7 linked regions of the Homo sapiens genome follow. The protein of the gene in region 3 purifies or fractionates together with the protein of the main gene of each other region. This does not show direct contact. Each region holds a gene or a part of one and is shown on either strand. Other genes may lie near its edges. The genes, in order: PPP1R10, GTPBP4, FAM98A, SULF2, SPATS2, SUMO3 and NSRP1.

The links.
Region 1: the proteins of FAM98A (region 3) and PPP1R10 purify together in Homo sapiens (affinity purification with mass spectrometry, with the first as the bait; one large-scale study listed by BioGRID). This does not show direct contact.
Region 2: the proteins of FAM98A (region 3) and GTPBP4 purify together in Homo sapiens (affinity purification with mass spectrometry, with the first as the bait; one large-scale study listed by BioGRID). This does not show direct contact.
Region 4: the proteins of FAM98A (region 3) and SULF2 purify together in Homo sapiens (co-immunoprecipitation; one large-scale study listed by IntAct). This does not show direct contact.
Region 5: the proteins of FAM98A (region 3) and SPATS2 purify together in Homo sapiens (co-immunoprecipitation; 2 studies listed by BioGRID and IntAct, with this or other methods). This does not show direct contact.
Region 6: the proteins of FAM98A (region 3) and SUMO3 purify together in Homo sapiens (pull-down; one large-scale study listed by IntAct). This does not show direct contact.
Region 7: the proteins of FAM98A (region 3) and NSRP1 purify together in Homo sapiens (affinity purification with mass spectrometry, with the first as the bait; one large-scale study listed by BioGRID). This does not show direct contact.

Annotation. Positions count from the first base shown.
Region 1 is NC_000006.12:30,603,744-30,607,243, reverse strand, and holds part of PPP1R10 (serine/threonine-protein phosphatase 1 regulatory subunit 10), read left to right. Parts: intron 1-387; coding exon 388-465; intron 466-602; coding exon 603-776; intron 777-1,000; coding exon 1,001-1,106; intron 1,107-1,208; coding exon 1,209-1,321; intron 1,322-2,149; coding exon 2,150-2,250; intron 2,251-2,508; coding exon 2,509-2,656; intron 2,657-2,732; coding exon 2,733-2,891; intron 2,892-2,989; coding exon 2,990-3,236; intron 3,237-3,400; coding exon 3,401-3,464; intron 3,465-3,500.
Region 2 is NC_000010.11:1,001,934-1,005,433, forward strand, and holds part of GTPBP4 (GTP-binding protein 4), read left to right. Parts: intron 1-3,500. UniProt on the Homo sapiens protein: Involved in the biogenesis of the 60S ribosomal subunit. Acts as a TP53 repressor, preventing TP53 stabilization and cell cycle arrest.
Region 3 is NC_000002.12:33,589,300-33,592,799, reverse strand, and holds part of FAM98A (protein FAM98A), read left to right. Parts: intron 1-585; coding exon 586-720; intron 721-3,500. UniProt on the Homo sapiens protein: Positively stimulates PRMT1-induced protein arginine methylation. Involved in skeletal homeostasis. Positively regulates lysosome peripheral distribution and ruffled border formation in osteoclasts.
Region 4 is NC_000020.11:47,670,482-47,673,981, forward strand, and holds part of SULF2 (extracellular sulfatase Sulf-2 isoform a precursor), read right to left. Parts: intron 1,913-3,500; coding exon 1,717-1,912; intron 1-1,716. UniProt on the Homo sapiens protein: Exhibits arylsulfatase activity and highly specific endoglucosamine-6-sulfatase activity. It can remove sulfate from the C-6 position of glucosamine within specific subregions of intact heparin.
Region 5 is NC_000012.12:49,496,462-49,499,961, forward strand, and holds part of SPATS2 (spermatogenesis-associated serine-rich protein 2), read left to right. Parts: intron 1-371; coding exon 372-548; intron 549-3,500.
Region 6 is NC_000021.9:44,811,563-44,815,062, reverse strand, and holds part of SUMO3 (small ubiquitin-related modifier 3 isoform 1 precursor), read left to right. Parts: intron 1-958; coding exon 959-1,087; coding exon of another isoform or gene 1,088-1,201; intron 1,202-3,500. UniProt on the Homo sapiens protein: Ubiquitin-like protein which can be covalently attached to target lysines either as a monomer or as a lysine-linked polymer. Does not seem to be involved in protein degradation and may function as an antagonist of ubiquitin in the degradation process.
Region 7 is NC_000017.11:30,175,816-30,179,315, forward strand, and holds part of NSRP1 (nuclear speckle splicing regulatory protein 1), read left to right. Parts: intron 1-2,255; coding exon 2,256-2,384; intron 2,385-3,274; coding exon 3,275-3,482; intron 3,483-3,500. UniProt on the Homo sapiens protein: RNA-binding protein that mediates pre-mRNA alternative splicing regulation.

The sequences.
Region 1 (3,500 bases), on a different chromosome or scaffold from region 3:
TGGATTTTGGTTACATGTATAAGTTCTTTAATGGTGATTTCTGAGATTTTGGTACACTCATCACCCAAGCAGTGTACACTGCACCCAACGTGTAGTCTTTTACTAATGTAGATTTTAACCACATATTCTGAAATATTAGGTCTTTTTACTCCAGAGTGGTGTGATGACATCAGAGTTGAAAGTTATCCAAGTAGAACACAACTCTAATTCATTGTTCCATTTTTTAAGGGTTTGGTTTTTAAGCATATCTCATGTTCTTCTTAAAACTTTGGGTTACTTTCTCCGTTACATAAATTTTCACAATATTTTCTCAAACCTCCCATTTTCTGTTCCTGGAAGAATGTTACTTTACATTATTTAGGCATTTCCCCTTTCTGTCACCTGCAGAGCTCCGGAAATTGGCCTCAGTCCTTGTCAGCGACTGGATGGCTGTCATCCGCTCTCAGAGCAGTACCCAGCCTGCTGGTAAGCTCCTTAGTCCTTTATCCTTTGTATTTATTTCTTTCCTATTGGGATGTGGCCTTTAGGTGCTCCCAGTCTGCTTCACCTCTGACAGTGTTCATCTAAATAAAATCCTTTTCTGCTTTGTTTTTTCACAACAGAGAAAGATAAGAAGAAACGTAAAGATGAAGGAAAAAGTCGAACTACCCTTCCTGAGCGACCTTTGACAGAGGTGAAGGCTGAGACCCGGGCTGAGGAGGCCCCAGAGAAGAAGAGGGAGAAGCCCAAGTCTCTTCGCACCACAGCACCCAGTCATGCCAAGTTCCGTTCCACTGGTAAGACTGGCGGCTGGCCTCTGGAGGGTTCATGGGCATGTGCACACCCAGAGCCTTATGGGGGAATCATTTGATGTGTGGTATGTTAATCGTAAGGAAGAGGGAAGACTAGCAGAGGAAGCTTTGGTTACAAGGCTAGAAGAACATTTGCGGGTGAGAACGGGAGGAAAATTCGGGGGTCTGGGGTTTGAGTTCAGCTGCCCACACCGTGCTTCTTTCCCCAGGACTAGAGCTGGAGACACCATCCTTGGTGCCTGTGAAGAAGAATGCCAGCACAGTGGTGGTTTCTGACAAGTACAACCTTAAACCCATCCCCCTCAAACGTCAGAGGTATGGACCATATTCTCAGGCTCTGAATGGGGTGGATCTGTGGACACAAGGGAGCAGGAGGGGGTGAGTCGGAGATGTTGATGACAGTTCCTCTTCTGACAGCAACGTAGCTGCTCCAGGAGATGCCACTCCCCCTGCAGAGAAGAAATACAAGCCACTCAACACAACACCTAATGCCACCAAAGAGATCAAAGTGAAGATCATCCCGCCACAGCGTGAGTCTAAAGTGGGGAAGATGTACTTTGAATTAGGAGCAAACTTTTTTTTTTTTTTTTTTGGAGACAGAGTCTCACTCTGTCACCCAGGCTGGAGTGCAGTGGCACGGTCTTGGCTCACTGCAAGCTCCGCCTCCCGGGTTCACGCCATTCTCCTGCCTCAGCCTCCCGAGTAGCTGGGACTACTGGTGCCCGCCACCACGCCCGGCTAATTTTTTGTATTTTTAGTAGAGATGGGGTTTCACCATGTTAGCCAGGATGGTCTTGATTTCCTGACCTCGTGATCCACCCACCTCAGCTTCCCAAAGTGCTGGGATTACAGGCATGAGCCACCGCACCTGGCCAGGAGCAAACTCTTATGGGAATGAATGTCCCTGGGAACGAGAAGTTTTTTCCCTTCTCTTTTATTATTTCCCTCCATTTTCCTTTGATTTCTTGGTATCCCTTACTTTTTGTACCTCTGGAACTCCCGTTTCAGGGGTCACTTAGGAGTAATTTTAGAGATAAGATAGGGACGTGTGCCATTCTGTGACTGGTCAGGGGCACCTGGTAAGGTGATCTGTCATGTTCACAAGGGCTCACTTCGTCAGCTACCTGAGCTATAATTCACATCCAAAGCTATGGCTTGCCTGCCATGAGAAACCTAGAATAACAACAAGAATATCCTGTGTGAATCCTCCTGCATGTGCTTCCTGGTCCTCTTGAGCTTATCGTGTCCTAAGTTGAGGCAGGGTCTTCACTGGCTCATTTTATGCCTGGACTGTGTTTGCAGGTGTAGGATTATGAAGGAGGTCTGATGATGCCATTTGGTGCTCTTTCTTTTTGTAGCTATGGAGGGCCTGGGCTTTCTGGATGCTCTTAATTCAGCCCCTGTTCCAGGCATCAAAATTAAGAAGAAAAAAAAAGTACTGTCACCTACGGCTGCCAAGGTATGGGCTCCCAGAAGTAGGTTTCAGTGACAGAGTATAAAAGGTAAAGTAGAAGAAAGGGCACAGCAGCTAGGAGTTGTCGGGGAGGACAACAAGAGGCGTTTTGCCTTGGATATAGACTGGTGCAGGTGAGACATTGTGGAGACAGAGTCTTCCTTTATATAGGAACTGTTGGGGGACTGTGCCTGGGACCCTGGACTAATTGCCTTGCCCTTGGCTTTCCAGTCAGTTCATTAACTTCCTTTTCTTTCACAATAGCCAAGCCCCTTTGAAGGGAAAACGAGCACAGAACCAAGCACAGCCAAACCTTCTTCCCCAGAACCAGCACCACCTTCTGAGGCAATGGACGCAGACCGTCCAGGCACCCCGGTTCCCCCTGTTGAAGTCCCGGAGCTCATGGATACAGGTAATCTAGAAACTGGTTCAGTTTGGGGGGTTTTCTGAAAGGAGGGATCTGGGTCTGAAACCTCTTCTGCTTCCAGCCTCTTTGGAGCCAGGAGCTCTGGATGCCAAGCCAGTGGAGAGTCCTGGAGATCCTAACCAACTGACCCGGAAAGGCAGGAAGAGGAAAAGTGTGACATGGCCTGAGGAAGGCAAACTGAGAGAATATTTCTATTTTGAATTGGATGAAACTGAACGAGGTAAGAGGTCATTTCCTACGTAATAGGTGTGTTTAAGGGATTTTGAAAGGACTTGGTTGTGCTTACTTTCCCTCTTGCTTTTCTTCCCCTGCCGACAGTAAATGTGAATAAGATCAAGGACTTTGGTGAGGCGGCTAAGCGAGAGATACTGTCAGACCGACATGCATTTGAGACAGCGCGGCGTCTGAGCCATGATAACATGGAGGAGAAGGTGCCCTGGGTGTGCCCCCGGCCCCTGGTTCTGCCCTCACCTCTTGTCACCCCTGGAAGCAATAGTCAGGAGCGATATATCCAGGCTGAGCGGGAGAAGGGAATCCTTCAGGAGCTCTTCCTGAACAAGGAGAGGTGAGCAGAGTGGGGTTCGTGCCCTGGGATGTTGAGTGCTTGGACACTCCTGAGGGAACATGAGCTGGGGTAATTACGGGGTGGAGGTTAGAAATTACTTTCAGGGTCTGAATTAATAACTTGACTATCATTCTTTTTTCTCTCACCTGTGTTGTTCCTGATAGTCCTCATGAGCCTGATCCTGAGCCCTACGAGCCCATACCCCCTAAACTCATCCCCCTAGATGAGGTAAGTCAATGTTCTGTGATGATGGAAGTTGTGATG
Region 2 (3,500 bases), on a different chromosome or scaffold from region 3:
TTTTTTTTGAGATGGAGTCTCGCTCTGTCACTGAGGCTGGAGTGCAGTGGCACGGTCTCGGCTCAGTGCAGCCTCCACCTCTGAGGTTCAAGTGATTCTCCTGCCTCAGCCTCCTGAGTAGCTGGGATTACAGGCGTGCGCCACCACACCGAGCTAATTTTTTGTATTTTTAGTAGAGAGGGTTTTACCATACCGGCCAGGCTGGTCTTGAATTTATGACCTCAAGTGATCCGCCCACCTTGGCCTCCCAGAGTGTTGGGATTATAGGCGTGAGCCACTGCGCCTGGCCTACAGTGCACTTTAAATCCAGTATTTGTTGATTCTTTTTTGCCTAGGATCTGTCTAATGTTGCGAGTCTGATGTTGATGTCCCCAAATATTATTGACCCCTTTTATTATTATATAATGACCTTCTTGTCTCTTTTTATTGTTTTTGACTTAAAATCTGCTTTATCTGATAGAAGTATAGCTATTCCTACTTGCTTTTAGTTTCCATCTGCGTAGAATATCTTTTTGCATCTCTTCATTTTCAGTCTATGTGTGTCTTAATGTCTTTACAGGTTAAGTGAATTTCTTGGATACTTTTTCATGTTTTCATGATAGTGATTATTGTCTTCGCTTCCAGATGTAGGACTTTCTTAAGTATATCTTGTAAGGCTGGTCTAGTAGTGACGAATTCTCTGTTTTTGCTTTTCTCGGAAAGAATTTATTTCTCCCTTATTTCTGAAGGATAGCTTTGCTGGATGTAATATAGTTGGCTGGCAGTCTTCTTTTTTTTCTTCAACACTTTGAATATATATCATCCCATTGTCTCCTGGCGTGCAAGGTTTCTGCAAAGAAATCTGCTGTTAGTCTAATGGGGATTTTCTTATATGTGACTTCAAGCTTTTCTCTAGCTGTTTTTAGAATTTCCTTTATATTTGACTTTTGACAGTTTGACTATAATGTGCCTTGGGGAAGACCTTTCTGGGCTGACTCTATTTGGGAATTCTTGAACTTCCTGGTTTTAGATGTCTATACCTCTCCCCAGTCTTGGAAAGTTTTCAGCTATCTCATTAAATAGGTTACTAAGCCTTTTCCCTTCTCTTCTCCTTCTTGAACTCCCATAATGCCAGCATGTATTCACTTAATGTTGTCCCATAAATCTTATAGGCTTCCTTCATTCTTTTTCGTTCTTCCTGCTTTTTTTCTCTCTGACTAGGTAGTTTCAAATGACAGAGATTTTTTTTCTGCTTCATCCAGTGTGCTGTTAAAACTGTCTATTGTATTATCTCATCCATTGAATTCTTCAGCTACAGGATTTCTGTTTGACTCTTTTTTACAATTTCTGTCTCAGTTTAAGTTCTTGTTCATATCATGAAATTGTTTTCTTGATTTTGTTGAATTATCTATCTGTATTTTGTTTCTCATTGAGTTTCCTTCAAAAAAATTATTATTTTGAATTCTCTTTCTGGCAATTCATTGATTTCCTTTTCATTAGAGTCTGTTCCTAGAGAGTTAATATTCCTTTCATGATTTCTTATTTCCTTGCTTTTTCATGTTTCTTGTGTCCCTGCATTGATGTCTCTGCATCTGGTAGAACAGGAGCCTCTTTTATACTTTCTTCTAGAGTGGCTTTCATGGAGAGGTTTTCACCTCACTTGGGTTTTACTGTGCCATTTGGGAAGAGAACCGTGACTTTCTGGATAGGAGCAGTGACATTGTTTCTGTGCAGCTTCCTCACCTCCATGAAATGTTGGCAATAACTGGGTGGCTCAGTGGCCTCAGCTCTGGAAGTTTGTGCCAGCGGTGGTGTATGTTTTTAAGGTCCTTGGTGTCAGGGGCTTTTGGGGTCCTGCTATTCTTGTTTTTCCCGCAATGGGGGACTTATCTGAGGGGATCTTTCTTGGTGTCAGGTCTGACATGGTCTGCAAGCAGCTGCCACAGTGCTGGGTTTCAGCTACAGGTACTCAGGGTAGCTGTGGGACTGGGGTCCTAGCCTTAGGGTCTTGTGTGCCTATCATGGCCTGGCCTTGGGGTGCAGGTTTACTCTCTGTGGTGGATCTCTGATCCTGAAGCACCCCTAGCAGCTTAAGCCCACAGGGCAAGGCTGTGGCTGTGGCTCCACCCGTGGGGTCAGGGCACAGTCCTGGCCTGACTCCAGGGAAGACGCACTCTGGAGGTTTGAGCCTGGGAAGCAGGGTAGAGCTGTACTTCAGAAACCTGAGCCAGTAGGGAGGGCTTAGTGTCAGCTCAAGGGGAACTCTGGACCCTGGGATGGTGGGGCCCAGCAGTATCCCAGACTCTCTGATGCTAGGTGAGGTGGCAGCAAGGACCCCAGAATGGACTAGTCCAGCTGTCATTTGGGCCCTAGAGGACAGGGAGGAGGACAGCAGTGACTCCATTTCCTGGAAAGAGTGGTGACTCTGCAGCTCAGAATATAGGGTTAGTCCAGCTCCAGGGAGCAGGTGCTGGAGCTGTTTGCGTGGTGGGGCAGGTGCCTCGGCTCAGCCCCTGCCCTGTTTCCCTGGGGTGTGGAGTACAATGTCAGCTCCTCCCCATGGTATGTGGCTGGTCAGCCTGGGCCTGAGGGTTGTGACTCTTCTGGGCGCCCCAGGCACCGTTGCCCTGGGATACAAGGTACCTCTTCAGCATAGACGCTGGGATATGTGACCATTCTGGGCATTTCCCAGGAAGCAGGGCACTGCTTCAGCTCAGGCAGCAGGGAGACAACGTTCCCTGAGAGGCCACGGTGCTATTTACCAGGAGGCAGGGTACCGTTGGGTGCTAGAGCAAGGGCTAGTAGAGGGGCTCCACCTCCACCAAGCCCTGCTGGGAAGGGGTAGCAGCTGCTCACAGCTGGCTTGGGGATGTTGGGCCACCAGGTTTGGGTAGTTTGGAGGCAGTTTAGCCTCAGGGATGAAGGGGAGCTGTGGCCACTTCCCCTGAGCAAGACATACTCCAGCCGCAGTTCCAGTCCCAAGATGATGGAGTATAGCCGCCCCATGGGCCCAACAGACAGGGCCCAGTGTCAGCTCCTTCTGTGTGGGAGCACAGCTGTGAGGATGCCAGGGGGCTCCGGTGGTGAGGGCTGTGGGTGTCCAGAGTGGTGGCAGGGCTGCTGCCATCCTCTTGCTTACCCCCTCACCGTAGGGAGAACCTCCTCCTGGGTCCCGTTGCATCCCAGCTGTAGGGTGGGTTGCTGGCGGCCCAGTGTGTTTTTTTTGGTTTGTTTGTTTGTTTGTTTGTTTTAAGACGGAGTCTCGCTCTGTCCCCCAGGCTGGAGTGCAGTGGCGTGATCTCTGCTCAATGCAAGCTCCACCTCCCAGGTTCACACCATTCTCCTGCCTCAGCCTCCCGAGTAGCTGGGACTACAGGCGGCCGCCACCACGCCTGGCTAATTTTTTATATTTTTAGCAGAGACAGGGTTTCACCATGTTAGCCAGGGTGACCTTGACCTCCTGACCTCATGATCCACCCGCCTCGGCCTCCCAAAGGCTGGGATTACAGGCATGAGCCACC
Region 3 (3,500 bases):
AAGCAGCTATGAAGAATCTTTAAAAGCAGACAGAAAAAAATCAGATTGGATGAGGGAGAAATTAGGGAACCATTAAAGACTCCCAAATAAGAGAATGACCTAATGAACACTGAGAAAGAAAATTTTAGATTGGGAGCAGTGGCTCATGCCTGTAGTAATCCCAGCACTTGAAGACGCCAAGGTGGGAAGATAACTTGAGGCCAGGAGTTTGACACTAACCTAGACAACATACTGAGACCTAGTCTCTACAAAAGAATTTTCTAAATATTAGCCAGGCATGGTAGCATACACCTGTAGGCCCAGCTATTCCGGAGACTTAAACAGGAGGATCCTTCAAGCCCAGGGGTTTGAGGTTACAGTAAGCCCTGATCACACCACTGCACTCCAGCCTAGGCCTCAGAGACCTTATCTCAAAAAAGAAAAAAAAAGAAGAAACTTTGCAGTGGTGTAAGAAAGGATAAATTAGAAGGGGAAAAAACTCAAGTTATGAAAATCCTATTAACAATTTCAATTATATATAATAATTGTTATGCTAATGGAAAAATAATCACTATCATTAAATAAGATTATTTTAATTCTTAAAAGGTCCGAGTGAAGCTGAAGAATTCCAGCTTGAGGTGAGTGGGCTACTAGGGGAGATGAACTGCCCGTATCTTTCACTGACATCTGGGGATGTGACCAAGCGCCTTCTCATTCAGAAGAACTGCCTCCTCTTGCTCAGTAAGTTCATGGCTACTAGAATATAGCTATTACTTTCTGTTTATGTTTTCCATGACTAATAAACTGACCATGGTTTTTTGTTTGTTTATTTCATTATGAATGTAATTCAAAATTCATTTTAAAATAAAACTTTCTTAAATTTCCAATTTAGGAGCTGAGGGTAGACGTGTGCACTGGTAGCATTATTGTTTTTGTAACTGATACTCTTTCAATATTTCAGCCTCAGTGGTACTCAGGCCGTTGTGCTTCTCCTAATGTGATCACTGGTAGTTTTGGAGTGTTGCTCAAGTGTGTGATCATTAAACTTACATTTTAGACTAGAAGCACATTTTTAAGTATATTAGGAAGATAGTATGGAAATAATGGAGATTTTGTTTAGAAATTCATTTCTTTGAGGAGAGTAAGCATTTATAATAGTAGATACAGTTAATGGTTAATGTAATTTAAAGTATTTTGTCTTGTTGCTATTTCTTTGTGGTTGGGTAATTGGGGATTTTGGTTTTGTTTGTAAATATTCTGGAATAATACTTGCATTGTTCTGGTACTTATTCTGAGAAATGAGTTTTTATGAAAAGTTCTTTCCTTCCATGTTTTTTACATACTTACTACTGTTTTGTCTCTTCACACTGAAAAACAGTAAGTAGATTCAAAAATTTTATTGCCTTCTATAAACTTTCCAATAAATACAACCTATAGTCTTAACTCAGAATTTATGTAGCATTCTGAAGCACATTTACATTAAGCTTTGGTTAACTGGCTATTATAGTTCTCATTATGACAGACAATTCAGAGGATTTTTAAAATCTTTGTTTTTACAACTCTATTATGGTTTCTGAAAAAATTATACAACTTCAGTTTTTAAGGTTCTGTTAAAAAAAAAAAAAGTGTTCATAGCCATTATACTTAGGCACTAAGTTATTCCAGAATCACTTTTGTAACTTCCCCTTTGTCTGTCAAATGATTGTTATTGTGGGAATGTGCACGTAAGGTTAGGTGTTGCTTTAGATACTGATATTGCTGCTGGTAGTTCTTACATATTCATTTAATATTCTTCATATTGTACAATTTCTGTAACTGATTCAATAGCAGTATACTCAGCTGATTCTTCCTTTATAGCATTGCTTATCCTTTACCAATATTTGGCACTTAGAATATGTTATCTACATAGGAAGATAATAGCTGTGTGGAATGCTTACTAATGACCCTGAATAGCTAATTCTTCCAAAGAGCTCAGAGTTTGGCCTTTTTAGCACTGATACTTATACAAACCACTTGAATGTAAGTATAAAATGCCTTTCACACTTTTCTGTTTCTTAAGCAGACTTCAGTGAACATTATTTTGGACTCAGGGTCATAATTCTAGACTTTATTTTAATCTGCTATCATCACCTCAAATGCTTTTCAAGAATATACCACTATTTGCTCTTCAATTAAATGACTAAATCATCTAGAGGTCACTCACTTTTTATATTCTTCATACATACATATATACACACTGTTTCCCTCTTTATCTTTGCTTCTGCCGATTCTCCCTTTCTAAAATATTCTCCCCAGTTTGTAACCTCTCTTTCATTCTAGCATTTACCTACATGTACTCATTTTTGACTTGGTCTATGTAAATATTTCTCATCTTTTGAAGTATCAGTTGTCACATCTGGATGCTATAATTTTACTTTTCCAGCACCCTTACCTCACTAACTTGAATCTTTTATCACATTGTATTTTAGGGGGGAAAACAAACCAGCCTCATTAGAATTGTTGGAAAAATAGAATAGCCTTTGAGTGAGAGGCTGAAAAGCTCTCATGTATCAGATTAAGGACTCTGTTTGGCTCTTCATTGGCCTTTTATGGTTCTCAGAGTGTTGCCCTTACGTAAATTAAGTAAGATGTCTGAGTTCCTAATAGATGAAGAACTATTCATCTTTTATTTTTGCATATACTCTTTATTCCTAACTAGATTATCGGAAGAGGTCATCTTTTTGATGTTTTAAAAAATGTTATCTTCAGTGCCTTTCCCAGTGCTTTGAACATACTGATTACGATTAAAGTTTTTTCATGATAATTATATTGGTAACCTAATTTTGTGAATACCTGAACTATGTTATCCCAAATTTACAGAACCAATATATTAAATCATATAGTATATGATTTTCTAGAACAAGAGTTGGCAAACTTTTTCTAAAAGGGCCAGATAGTAAATATTTTTGGCTTTGTGGCCCTAAGTTCTCTGTCACAACTACATACCTTTGCTGTTACAGCATGAAAGCAGCCATAGACAATATATAAATGAGTGAGTGTGGCAGTGTCCTAATGAAACCTTATGTACAAAAACAGTGGTTGTTGTCTTAACAGTGGGGTTTTACTGTTTTGACGTTTTAACTCATAAATACAGTTTGCTGTATGGAACATGTTAAGATTTTACAGTGTCAAATCCATTTAGAATGACCTTTCCAGAAACTTAGCTGTATTTATTGTTTTAGAACAGGAGTTGGCAGCCTTTCAGAAATGATTTGCCAAAATTATGGCCTCTGTCCTTCTAGCATTACATTTTGGGTATAGGAAATTTGATACACAAGTTGACTTTTTTCTACTTCTAATAGGACCTGAGGGCCTTGAAAATATCTTTTCCCAAAACTGGTTTTGTTATATTGTCAGAAGAATCTCACTTTGTCACATAACCAGAAATCCTAAGATTCAAATGATTCTTAATCATCTTTTATAAAAATTGAAATGTCCTTGGGAATGTTAAAGGAATGAGATTGAATATTTATACCTTCAAC
Region 4 (3,500 bases), on a different chromosome or scaffold from region 3:
GTGCCCGATCAGGAAGGAGATTCCAACACAGGCTACCATGTGGATGAACCCGGAGAACATTATGCGAAGAGAAATAAGCCAGCCACAGAAGGACAAATACTGTACAATTCCACTTACATGAGGCCCCTAAAGCAGTCAAGCTCATAGAGAAGAAGAGTGGTTGCTGAGAACGGGTGGGAGAATGGGGTGACAGCAGGGTGGGAGAGCGGGGTGGGAGAACGGGGTGGGGGTGGGAGCGGGGTGGGAGAATGGGGAGATAACGTTGAATGGGGACAGTTGTAGTTTTGCAAGATGAAGAGTTCATTTAGCAGATAGGTTGCGTACTAGTGGGAATATAGTTGACACTACTGGATACTTAAAAATGGTTAAGATGATAAATTTTATGGGAATTTCACCATAATTTTTTTTAAAAACAACACCTAAAATCTCTCATTAGGCTTTGGCTGTCCTTAGGCCAGAGAAATGGGCTACGTGGGAAGCTGCCCAGCCTTGGAGGGCACACTTCTAGCCGGCGGACCCCGACGCCTCCACACATTTTCAGGGCACAGGCTCATTCTTGTTTTAAAGTCATGCAGGGACCATTCTTCCTGTTTGATGGTGGGAGCTGAGCCTCAGAATGGTGAAGCGATGGCCCAGGGTGGCGGCTGAGCCTTCTGGCTGGGTCTAGAAGAGTCCCTCTCTCCACTTCGCCTGCTCCCTGGCTTCTGTCTGACTGTCCTCTCCTCGGCCCTTGCCGAGAATGAGGTGTGAAGGTGTAGACACTTCTTCAGCTGAGTGAGGCTTTTCCCCACTCAACTATAGTCTATTTTTGTTCTTCAGGGTAGTTTATTTTTTATTTTTTTTGAGACCGAGTCTCACTCTGTCGCCCAGGCTGGAGCACAATGGCGTGATCTCAGCTATCTGCAACCTCTGCTCCCGGGTTCAAGCGACTCTGCTGCCACACCACACGCCCAACTAATTTTTTGTATTTTTAGTAGAGATGGGGTTTCACCATGTTGGCCAGGCTGGTCTTGAACTCCTGACCTCAAGTGATCTGTCCACCTCGGCCTCTCAAAGTGCTGGGATTACAGGTGTGAGCCACCGCGCCCAGCCCAGGGTAGTTCTATAAACTCACCACAAACACTGACTAATTGAACGCTGAAACATGGCTCCTAGGGGAAGCACAGAGCTGGGTTCCTGTGAACCTCTGGTCCTAGCATTTTCACCAGCCAATCAATACAGAACCTTGTATGTGTGTTTCTTCCTTTTTTTTGAGATGGATCTCGCTCTGTTGCCCAGGCTGGAGTGCAGTGGCACAATCTCGGGTCACTGCAGCCTCTGCCTCCTGGGTTCAAGCGATTCTCATGCCTCAGCCTCCCAAGTAGCTGGGATTACAAGCGTGAGCCACCACATCTGGCTAATTGTTGTATTTTTAGACGGGGTTTTACCATGTTGGCCAGGCTGGTCTGGAGCTCCTGACCTCAGGTGATCTGCCTGCCTCGGACTCCCAAAGTACTGGGATTACAGGCGTGAGCCATTGCGCCTGGCCTTATCTGTTTATTACTACTGCTCCCCACTAGAATGGGTGGCTCGTGAGGAGATGTGGCTGTGTCCCCAGCCCCTAGATCACCACCTGGCAAAGTGACAGTCTCTGTGGAACTGTCGGAGTGAATGAATGGGGCCCCCCAGGCATGGTCTCTCTCCTCCTGTCCCACTCAGCCAGGTTGTGACACTTACTCTTCTTGAAGAGTTTTTTCCGGCGTCCGGCCAGGCTGAGCTTGTAGTCCCCGCTGTCACAGGTGCAGGCCTCGCTGCCCTGCCCGTAGTACTTGGGCACGAGGTTGGAGAGGGCTCTGCTGCCGCCCAGCCGCATGGGGCCCTTGCACTTATGCAGCTTCAGCTTCCCCGTGGCGTCCTCCACACACTGCCACTTCTGAAAGACATGCCAGGGCCTCGGCCAGCTGCTCATCTGCTCCCCTAAACCCGCCTCTCCCCTGCCACCCCCATCCACCCTGGAGACATCCCTCTCCCTGCTTGCATCCAGCTGTTACCGAGCCCCACCTCTGCTATCTCCAATGCCGCTTCTCTCCACTGCCACTGCTTGAACCTTGGGCAGAGCTACCATCATCCCCCAGCGAGATGCCTCCGACAGCCACCACTCTCACGGTTACCTGCTTCTGTCTGCTCCTAAAATCCACCCACATGGCAGCTAGAGGAATCTTTTTAAAGGGCAAGTTGGATCATATTACTCTCCTACTTAAAACCCTTCAATGGCTCCCACTGTCTTTAAGACAAGACCCAAGCTCCTGATACTAGTCTTTGAACATCCTCTGCAATCTGGCCCTGGCCTACCCATCGGTCCTCCTCTCCCTCAGCCCTCTCTCCAGTATCCCCTGTGGGCTGCTGCCCCAGGGACTTGGCGCTCACTGTTCCTTCTGCCTAGAATGCCTTTTCTCCAGCCCTTCCTGCTGCTGGAGGCTTCTCTTCCTTCCCGTCTGCTCCAGCGCAAGGAGGTCTCCCCTGACCACCTTCCCAGACTCAATCAGTGCAGTGTGTGCAGAGGCTCCACGTGTGCACTCAACTCCAGGCCTGTGGTCAGACGCTGAATGTAGATAGAATCACTGTCCAAATCTCTCGTGTTGATCCTTCTGCTCTTCCCCAGTTCCAGCCTCCTGGATCCCCTCACGGGATTCTGCAACCACCTGTAAACTGGATTCTCTTCCCTTCTGTCCACAGCTGCTCCAGCCCATTGACCCAGTGACTCTTTAGGGCCTATTCTGTGCCAAAGTGACCTTTCCAGGCCATGGGTCAGATCTGTTCCCTGTGTCTCTCCAGCACTTAGCATGTGCCAAGCACTGTGTGTTAATATATTAACTTGCTTACTACACCTCACGCTACCCTACGAGGCAGGTGCTGTCATTACTGTGCCGATTCAAGATGAGGCACACGGAGGTAGAGAGATGTGTCCTGGGTCACACAACTGGGAGGTGCAAGAGCTGTAAGGAAAAGTGTGGAGTCTGGTGCCACCATCCCCCCCAACCCTCTGCTGCACCGTCTGCCCCCGCCCGCTGCCGTTGAAGGCCCTGGTGCCTTTCACCTGCTCATCTTGCCCCTGTCCCGCCCATCTGTTCTCACCTGGAGGCTGAATCTAATTGCATTCACAGCGCCCTGCCACCCTCCCATCCCCTTCAATGCATGCAGGCCCTTCCAGCAACCTGGATTCCTTAGTGCAGAAGTAGACTGATGGGCCAGCAGGCATGGCCCTGAATGAGGCCAGCCCAGAAGCGCCTGGGGGACCTGGGGAGGCTAAAGTGGGCACTGTGACCGGCTATACCCATCTGACTGTCGCCAGAGGGGAGCACAGGCCCAGAAGCCCAGGTCTGATTTTTCAAGAAAAGCCAGGGCTCTGAGTTCTGCGTGAAGCCCTGAGCTGTGTGCGCTGGCGAGCAGCCTCCTGTCCACTTAGCTCTCTCTGCCTGGAATTCTCCTTCCCCACTGCCTGCTCCCCGCTCCAACCCAAC
Region 5 (3,500 bases), on a different chromosome or scaffold from region 3:
TTTTCTTAACATGGAGGCTTGCAGAAGTTGGTGATACTGACTTTCTTTGATTCCTTGTGCCAGACTTACATAGAAACTACCAAGCTACAAAGAAGCCACAGAGCCACAGGGATTGAGCTCCCTATCTAAAGATGTGTTGCCACAGACTCTTCTCTTCATTCCGGACGCCACTTAAGACTAAGCCCGAAGCTGCCGATAGCCATACCCAGCTGATTCTGATCTTTGTTCTATTGTTTCAGTTGATTTTGTTTACAGTCTTTTAAGAGGCATGGTTTTGCCTCAAACATTTTTACCTGTTTTCTTTGTGTACTTAAGAATGACTGGTTTACTCCTAAATTGTGCTCTAAAGTACAGTCCTCTTTCTTGGACAGGATCCATGCTGCAGAATGGTGTCTCTGATTTTGAGACCAAGTCTTTGACTATGCACTCTATTCACAATTCTCAACAACCCAGGAATGCTGCCAAATCTCTCTCAAGACCTACCACAGAAACTCAGTTTTCAAATATGGGGATGGAAGATGTTCCCCTCGCCACCAGTAAAAAGCTAAGTAAGTCAGAGGCCCACCTGTGAGAGAAAATGAAAAATCTGTGTTTTTGGCTAAAGAGGGCAAATTATCTCTGTTGCCATAAATAAGGTTTCAGAAGGGCATCAGTTAATATTTTTCCATTTTCCAGACAGTGACTGACTACTCAGCCCTTCCCCTAACCTTTGTGTACACAGTTGGAGTCTGAAAGTAGTTTAAATGCTGTACAATCTACTTACGACGGCACGTTTTGTGAATTAAAGTCAAACTCTACTGCCAGAATGATTTACCTGCTAACATTAACCTGTTTCTTTATTTGCTTTATTGCAACGTTTTGGTGCTATTTCTTTCATTTTTATCTTCTGGTTGACCCAACAAGTAAAAGCTCTACCTTCTCTGACATTGACTTTTTTTTTTTTTTTCCCCCGAGACTGAGTCTCACTTTGTCCCCCAGGCTGGAGTGCAGTGGCGCAGTCTTGGCTCACTGCAAGCTCCGCCTCCCGGGTTCATGCCATTCTCCTGCCTCAGCCTACCAAGTAGCTGGGACTACAGGCGAGTGCCACCATGCCCGGCTATTTTTTTGTATTTTTAGTAGAGATGGGGTTTCGCCGTGTTAGCCAGGATGGTCTCGATCTCCTGACCTCGTGATCCGCCTGTCTCGGCCTCCCAAAGTGCTGGAATTACAGGCGTGAGCCACTGCGCCCAGCCAACATTGACATTTTAAAGAAATATTTTCACTCCTCTTCATAACTTCATGCTCTTACTGAGCTAGAGTCCTCTGACAGACTCTAGCTTAGAAAAAGTAAGGTCATTTTCTCTTAAGTATGTGGCGTTGACTGGTGATAGCTCTTTGCTTAAAAAAAAAAGAAAACTACAATAATCATTTAAACAAACAGCCAGTAATTCAGCAGACAGAGATAATACCCTGTGTTTCCTATATCTGAGTTTCATACATCTAAGCATGGTGGTCCACTCCACTAAACAAATGAAACATAGAAATATAAAGGACACTTGTAATCAGTAGCTCTTTATGGAATTATTTATTACACATGAGCCAAATTTTAATTAGGTAAGCTCCCCTTTTTCATTGTTCTGGTAGCCCTCAGCCTGTTGCAGATCAGCAGGTTTGAGACTATCCAATCAAGCCAAAAAAAAAAAAAATATATATATATATATATATATATGCGCACAAGGCTTGAAAGCTTTTAGGTGGATTCTAAAAAATAAAATCAAGTTGAGATGAGGAAGAATTTAAATAAAAAAATTGGAAATGCATATCTTGGCATAGTTACAAACTTTTTAGATCCATGTTTCCAGCAATCAATTATATATGTAATTTGGGGATTGGTGAATATAGAAAGGTAAATAGAACTCTTGGAAATTGGTTAAAATGTGTTGAGTAGGTAAATGCAGTCCATCCTTTTCTACAAAGCTGGCTTCCTCATATATACAGTGCTTTGAAGTGTACTATACAGACAGAACATTTTAATTTTGTAATGTCCACATGGTGAATTATATTCTATTAAATCCTGTAACTTAAGGAATTTTGAAAATTTGGTACCTTTTTTAAAGTCTTTTTTCTCTGTGTGTTTCATTTCATTTTGGATAGTTTGTAAAACTGCTGTCTTCAACTGTATTCATCTTTTGTTAACAGTTTCTATTCTGCTGTTAATTCTATGCAGTATATGTCTCTGGCATTGTTTTATTTGTCTCTAGAAGTTCAACTGGGGTCTTTTAAGATATCTTCCATATCTCTTCTTACCACGCTTATGCTTTCCTCTACCTTCTTGAACATATGGTATCTATTTTTTTTTTTTTTTTTTTTGAGATGGAGTTTCACTCTTGTCACCCAGGCTGGAGTGCAATGGTGTGATTTCAGCTCACTGAAACCTCCGCCTCCCAGTGATTCTCCTGCCTCAGCCTCCCGAGTAGCTGGGATTACAGGTGCGTGCCACCACACCCAGCTAATTTTGTATTTTTAGTAGAGACAGGGTTTCACCATGCTGGCCAGGCTGGTCTTGAACTCCTGGCCTCAGGTGATCCACCCATCTTGGCCTCCCAAAGTGCTGGGATTACAGGCGTGAGCCACCACACCTGGCCCTATAGTATCTAATTATAATAGCTGTTTGATGTCCTTTTCTACTCAATTCTATCATCTGTGTCATTTCCGCATCTGCCTCTGTGATTGATTTTTTCTCTTACTTATAGGTCATATTTTTCTGTTTCTTTTAAGCTTTTTTAGGTGGGACTAGAGCAGCCTTTAGTCTAGAAATAATTTTGCCCTGTTGCTGAGGCAGTATCCTTCCAACTACTCTGCCTGCCATATATTGTGAGGTTTTTCCACTCTGGCTGGTGTGAGCACAAACTGTCCCTGGCCTGGTGAGCTCTGGGGATTGTTCTGCCTGGTTGTTTTGTTTTGTTTTGTTTTGTTTTGTTTTGTTTTGTTTTGTTTTGTTTTTTGGTGGTTCTTTGGTTTTGTTTTGTTTTTTTTTTGCCTGTTGTCTTTCCAGTCTTGGGTAGTTTCTTTATACTCATGCACTGGTCCACACTCAGAATCCTCTGTGGATCTCCGTGCAGCTCTCTCATGTGTGTAGCTCTTTCCTCACCAATACTCTGCCCCAGAATTTCAGCCATCTTGGCCTTTCCAAATTCCCAACTTTGTCCCTTCAATTCAGGGGGTCCACCAGGCTGTTGAGGATTTCTCCTCCCTGCATTGTAGCCTAGAAACTATTGAGGCAGCAAGTTGGGGCAATCATAGGCCTCACTTCATTTGTTTCTGTTGTCTCGGGAAAAGTACTACCTGTTACACATTGTCTGAAAACCATTGTTTCATATATTTTGTCTTTGTATGTTTTTAGTTGTTTAAGATAGAAGAATAAATCCAATTATTATTATTCCATCTTGACCAGGATCCTTTTTTTTCCAAAAATCTATAAAAACATGTTTTTCTCATTGGGGAAGGTGGTTATTTAGGAA
Region 6 (3,500 bases), on a different chromosome or scaffold from region 3:
TTTCAGAGTGAGCCGGAGGGCCCTGCCTCATTGCTTCACTCACAAACGACTTTATCCCAGCAGTGCAGGCCGGCAGAGGGGTGCCCCACTTTTCGGCTCAGACTGAGCTGCCCCGAAGTTGGCTCCCAGTCTCTTGACATCAGCTTTTTGCCTCAACTCAAAATGCATTTTCAGGCAACAAGACACCCCGATTGTGCCATTGTTGAGTAGCTTCAAGTATGGCATGAATTAAAAAATAAAATAGTACCACCTACTGCCGCTCAGATAGGACAGTTTGAAACCAGAAAGTACTCGGAGGTGGCTTCCCTCACATTTGCTGATGTCAGGGCAGCGAGAAGGAGCCTGGCCGCCTGCTGTGGGGAGTGGCCGTCCTCAGTTGGATTCCCGAAATCACCACTTGAATGTCCCATAGGGTTCCTCTGAGTCACAAATGTTTTCTTCTGTTTTTGGTTTCTTTTACTAGTGCTGTATAGCTGCATGACTTTTGGATATGTGTTTTTACTGGTTTCATAAGAATTTTTTAAAAAAGAGATGGGGTCTTGCTCTGTTGCCCAGACTGGTCTCAAACTCCTGGGCTTACGCCATCCTCCCACGTCAACTCCCAAAGTACTGGGATAACAGGTGTGAGCCACTGTGCCCAGCCCACAAGAATAACTTTAAAATAAAGATGGATTTTCTCTTATTTTTCCCTAGACTTTGTTTTTTTCTTTGAATTAACAATGTCAGAGGACCCTAGGCTTGCATTGTTTTACACATGGATGCTTAACAAGTGGAAGTTAAAAATAAATTCTGTGTAAAAATAAAACCATCACGAGTGACTCTGAATTGCTGGAGAATTTTAAGAATTAGGTTGGTTTTGATGACTTTAAAAAGCCAACAATTACCTAAAGACTTGCCCATTCAAGTCGCGGTTATTTTGAGACACAGTTTTGAGGCCAGTCTCTGGTGTCTTCTGCAGGAGGGTGTGAAGACAGAGAATGACCACATCAACCTGAAGGTGGCCGGGCAGGACGGCTCCGTGGTGCAGTTCAAGATCAAGAGGCACACGCCGCTGAGCAAGCTGATGAAGGCCTACTGCGAGAGGCAGGTGCGGCACCTTGCTCCCCCGCAGAGCCTCCCCGTGTGCGCACTGGTCCTGTGCGTTCCAGGCATCCCCAGAGCACGAGCGTCTCGGGGCTGGACCCAGATGCAGCTGCCCGAGGTGCCCTCTTCGTGGATGGGCAGGCGGGGGCTTGTGCTGTAAAATTAGTCCAGGCTGGGCTTGTCCCCCATGGCCTTTTATAAGGTGGAGGGACCTAGAGGCTCGGAGAAGTGTGGTGGGTTTTTCTTCCTGACAGGGCGGCTGCCCGGGGTGCTGTGTTCTCCATGGGGTACTAACATCTGTGAAGTCTGTGATGCTGAAGGCTCTTGGGGGCCCTGCTCAGGTCTGGCCATTCTGGGGCTGCAGGTGGCGTGTGCCCCACGCCGCTGTCACCCTGTCCTCGCGTATGAGCTGGCCTGACCCTGGAGAGACACTGCCCTCATGTGCGGTGTGGTTTTCCATTTTGTTAGGAAAGGCAAGAAAGCGCGTGATTCTTTCCCCTTCTTCCCCAGTTTCAGGATAATGAGCTGCCCCACTGGCAGTGCCCAGCTGGGTGGATGCCTTCTGGCTGCTGTTTGTGACGTGGTGTGTGTGTGTCTGTTGTTCTTGGTAACGCTGTGGCGGACTCACCCTGGGCCAGGGGGTCCCTCTCTAGGCCACTTTTATGGGCTTTGCCCACCAGCTGCTGCCTGGTGTGTTGGGGGCCCGGCCCTGCAGCCAGGCGCCCTTCCCCAGGGAGCCCTGCTTGCCTGAGTGGGACCTAGAGGCTGCTTTTCTTCAGCCGCTTTGAAAATACAGCAACTCGTTGCCCTTTTATTTTACTCTTTTGCCTGTGGATTTTCAGTTAGATTTCCTCCTCTTTCCCTCCCACTTTGGATACCCTGCTCATAGGGGCAGTCACTGGCGACTGCCTTGCATTCTTTATTGGCAAGCAGCCCCTGACTTCCTTTCTTTGTGTTTGCTGAGGGCAGATCTTATTTTCACCTGCGAAAGGTGAGACTGAGCTTCCAGACACGCAGGTCCCGGTCTTCCCAGCAGAGTGAGTGGCCTGGCGCCGTGTAGGCCCCGTGATCCAGCCTCTGCCTGATGCTGGGCCCTGGCCCTTGCTGGAGTTTGTACTGCCTGGGCTCGTGGCCACTGTGTGTGTGACTTCCCGGGTGCCCATGTTCTCCTCTGCGCTGCGGGATGGCAGGCGTGTGGGGCCGTGTACATGTGGGGGGGGCTCTGCCCTTCCCCCTGCTCTCCCGGAGCTCCCCTCCTGCCCCACCTGCACTGCTGCTTGTGAGGCTGGCTGCTCAGCCGTGGTCCAGGGCCTCCTGTTCAAATCCTTCTAGAAACTTGGGTTCTCTCTTGGGTGTTTCCTGGATTAGTCCTCCTCCCTTTTGTGTTTTGTGGTGGAGCACATCCTCCAGGGTCTTGTCAGAACGGGCACAGAAGGGCAGCGTCTTTGAGACACTGCATGGCTGAACGTGACTTTTGCTTTTATAAACCTTCACACTTCAGTATGTGGCTGCACGTAATATTCTCGGTTGAAACTTTTTTTTCTTTTTTATTTCAGAGGTCAGCCATGAGAATAGCTCCCAATGTTAAAAGTGAAAAGTTCACCAGGCATGGTGGCTTATGCCTGTAATCCCAGCACTTTGGGAGGCTGATGTGGGAGGATCACTTGAGGTCAGGAATTCAAGACTTGAGGTCAGGAGTTCAGTGCCAAGCCTGGGCAACACAGGGAGACCCTGTCTCTACGAAACATTAAAAAAATTAGCCAGGTGTGGTGGTGCAAGCCTATAGTCCCAGCTACTCAGGAGGCTGAGGTGGGAGGATTGTTTGAGCCCAGGAGGTGGAGGCTGCAGGGAGCTGAGGTCATATCACTGCTCCAGCCTGGGTGACAGAGCAAGACCCTGTCTCAAAAAAAAAAAAAAAAAAAAAAAGGTGAGAAGTTCAGTGGATTCTGATTCTCTGTGCTTTGTTTGTAACTTGGTTTTTCCCTGGAAGTATCTGGGACCATATTCTGGCATTCAGTGTTTCCTTATGTGCCTCAGAGGTGGGTGATTTTCTCACTCATGCTGCTGGGCACTTTATGGGTCTGGACGTTTATTTTTATTCAGGAAATATGCCTTATGTTAGTTCTCTGATAATTTGTATCCTTCTCCAGACTCTGTTCCCTCTTTTTGGAGTTCCTGTTCCTCCTGCTGCTCATTGTCCTAGATATTTTAAATTTGATAATTTTTCTCCCATTTTGCTTTGGGCTTTATTGTTGCATTTGGGCTTCTTTCCGGGAGGTCATTTCAACTTTATCTTTCCACTTCCTGTGGACATTCTCATCTCTGTCATGATTTTTAATTTCCAAAAGTTCTTTTTTCTTTCTGTTCTTTGAGTGTTCTTTTTTTCTCAGTAGCAACTTATTTTTTTTGAGACAGGG
Region 7 (3,500 bases), on a different chromosome or scaffold from region 3:
TCCTCTGTGTTTGAAAATGTTCTGTATTGATACAAAAATTAGCCGGGCATGGTGGTGTGCACCTGTAGTCCCAGCTACTCAGGAGGCTGAGGCAGGAGAGTCACTTGAACACAGGAGGTGGAGGTTGCAGTGAGCCAAGATGGTGCCACTGCACTCCAGGCTAGGCAACAGAGCAAGACTCCGAACCCCCCCCCCAAAAAAAAAGAAAAAAGAAAATGTTCTCTATGTGTCCATTGGGCCAGTTGTGTTAATCCATATATATTCATACTGTTTTTTTTTGTTGTTGTTGTTGTTTTGTTTTGTTTTGTTTTGTTTTGTCTGTTCTGTTACTGAGAGGCATATGTTAAATCTCCCACTGTGATTATGGATTTGTCTATTTTTCCTTGAATATCTGTTCAATTTTTGCTTTATTTATGTTGCAACATAGTTAATAGTAACATATCTACTCAAGTGCTCCCCTACAGCTCTCCTCCCAACATATACAAAGGCATGTCATCAGTTTAAAACAGCCCTGGCCGGGTGCAGTGGCTCATGCATGTAATCCCTGTACTTTGGAAGGCCAAGGTGGGTAGATCACGAGGTCAGGAGTTCGAGAACAGCTTGACCAACATAGTGAAACTCCGTCTCTACTAAAAATACAAAAAATTAGCCAGGCATGGTAGCAGGTGCCTGTAATCCTAGCTACTCAGGAGGCTGAGGCAGGGGAATCGCTTGAACCCAGGAGGCGGAGGTTGCAGCGAGCCAAGATCCTACCACTGCACACCAGCCAGGACAACAGTGCAAGACTTCGTCCCCCCCCCCCCAAAAAAAAAACAGCCCTCAGTCTCCCTTTTTCCTTGCTTTTTGTTATTGTAGTGGTGATTATTTCTTAGATTCCATGTTTCCCTCTTTGTGTTATCCAGGCTGGTTTTGGGGAGTGAGCAGGAGTGCCAATTCAACATCTAGGCAGGAGAATCTTTCACTTTCTAAAGGTTGAGAAGTGAAAAAAATGAATTTCTTAATATTTTAAACAATATTCTAGAAAAAAAGTTTTTCAGTTAGCATGTGCATTATTCAGAGTTTAAATGTTGGTATGTAAAAACCCTAGTCTATCAGATAGATTCTTTTGAATAATTATATCATCCTATCACTTAAAAAGGATCCCTCTTGGGTTCTACATTAGCCAATCTAGCAATTGAGGAAAAAATCAAAGTGTGTAGACTCTGTACCTCAGGAATTTACAACCGGGGGCAAAAGGCTAAGATTTGTAAAACAGGAAGTAAAAACGCCCATGCCTGGCATGGTGGCTCACGCATGTAATTCCAGCACTTTGGGGGGCGCTGAGGTGGGTGGATCATTTGAGCCCAGGAGTTCAAGACCAGCCTGAGCAACATGGTGAAACTCTGTCTCTACAAAACATATAAAAATTAGCCAGGCATGGTGGCACACGCCTGTAGTCCCAGCTACTTGGGTGGCTGAAGTGAGAGGATCACTTGAAGCCTGGGAGGCAGAGGTTGCAGTGAGCCAAGATCACACCACTGGCACTCCAGCCAGTGCGACAGAGCGAGACCCCATCGCTTTAAAAAAAAAAAAAATCTAGTGTAAATATTGCAGAATAGAATGTTCCTCAGAGTTTAGAAGAAAGATCATTGGGGGTTAGAGGCCTCAGAAATGGGCTCATAGAAGAAGTAGGGCTGGCCCTGAAACACTGGGTAAGATTTTGATCGCTTGAAAGAGGAGAAAAAAACATCATTTGAGATGGAAGGAACATGATAAAGGCAGAGACTTTATGTTTAACAACTCTAAAAATGATAATGAAAGTTTAATATATAATACAGGCCTCTCAAAACCAAGGTTAGGTGTTTCCATCGTACCTTTTGACCTTTTGATGGGTATAATTATATACAAATGAATAAATGATAATAATAGTTGATGTTTATTGAATACTTATTCTCTATCAGGCTCTGTTTTAAGTTTAGTCATTTAATTATAACAGCTTAGAATGTAAATATAGTCATTATTCTTTCTCTTCTAGATGAGGAAATTAAGGTACCAAAAGATTACAAACAAACTTGCCCGGAGTAATTAGTAAGTGTAGAGCCAGCATTCATACCCAGGCAGCCTGGCTCCAGAGTTTATTTGTATTTCCTATCTAAAAATGTGATTGTAATTTTTATGATATATTTTCAATTTATGAACCATTCTCAAAAAGCATAGACTTTGTTGTATCTATTGGCTGGCTCATATTTTTGAAACATGTTTAATTTTTTTTTAAGACCAAACTGGAAATCCAGAAGGCCCTTGCAGAAGATGCTACTGTGTATGAATATGACAGTATTTATGATGAAATGCAGAAAAAAAAGGAGGAAAATAATCCCAAATTGCTTTTGGGGAAAGACAGAAAGGTTTGTAAGCTGAAATAACAAACTTTCTTTGACCTTGACCTACATTTTGTGTCTTAATCTTATTTTAACATGAGAATGATCTGAGAAAAAGCTTTTAGGTATGTGAGGTGTGAAGAGTCCCTAATTCCAGATATTACAAATTTGATTGTAGAACTCAAGCAGCACTACATATTATCCTAATAGGCCAGGTGAATTATCTAACAATTTTGCTTTTTGCTTTGAAACCTTTGCAAATAGTTTTTTGAAAACTTTTCCTTGGAATTCTAATGTACCAAATTTGTACTGTTCCTGCCCTGTGTATGTTTATTTGTGTTTTATTACCCTCTCATTTTTTCATTTCTTCCTAGCTGGTAACTGAATCATCTGCCTGCACCTATCATGATTTTATTTTCAGTGAGAAAAAAATTTGGGAGGGGTAAAAACTGAAATAAGTTCAGATTTTCTTTCTATCAACTCTTGTTCTTTCACAAGCACAGGCTGATTTTTAAGGGCATTTGCATCTGACAGTTATCTACTAGTAGAGTGATGGTATAAAATTATATTAAGCTACTATTTTAAATAGTCATATTTCTACTAAATGTGAAAAACTAGCAGGAACTTTTCTGATTTTTTTTTAATTAAGATAATACCAGAAAAAAGAAAAAAATTATATTTAGTTTGATGTTTTATTAAAGTTAAATCGCATTATAAACAATTTCTATCTCTGCTACACCTAAATTTTTATGGAAAACAGTTTCAATATTAATCTTGCTAGTAAGTTTATATTGAATGTAGGGAAGACAATCTTATTTGGGCCAATCATTTCTATCTTAATGAATTCATTATAAAAATTATAATATTAACAATTACTATTTTTTTACTCTTTTCCTAAATCTTTTTTATTTCCTTAGCCCAAGTATATTCACAACTTGCTAAAAGCAGTTGAGATCAGAAAAAAGGAACAGGAAAAAAGAATGGAAAAGAAAATACAGAGAGAACGAGAAATGGAAAAGGGGGAGTTTGATGATAAAGAAGCATTTGTGACATCTGCATATAAGAAAAAACTGCAAGAGAGAGCTGAAGAAGAAGAAAGAGAAAAGAGGGCTGCTGCACTGGAAGGTAAAATGAAAGAGTGGG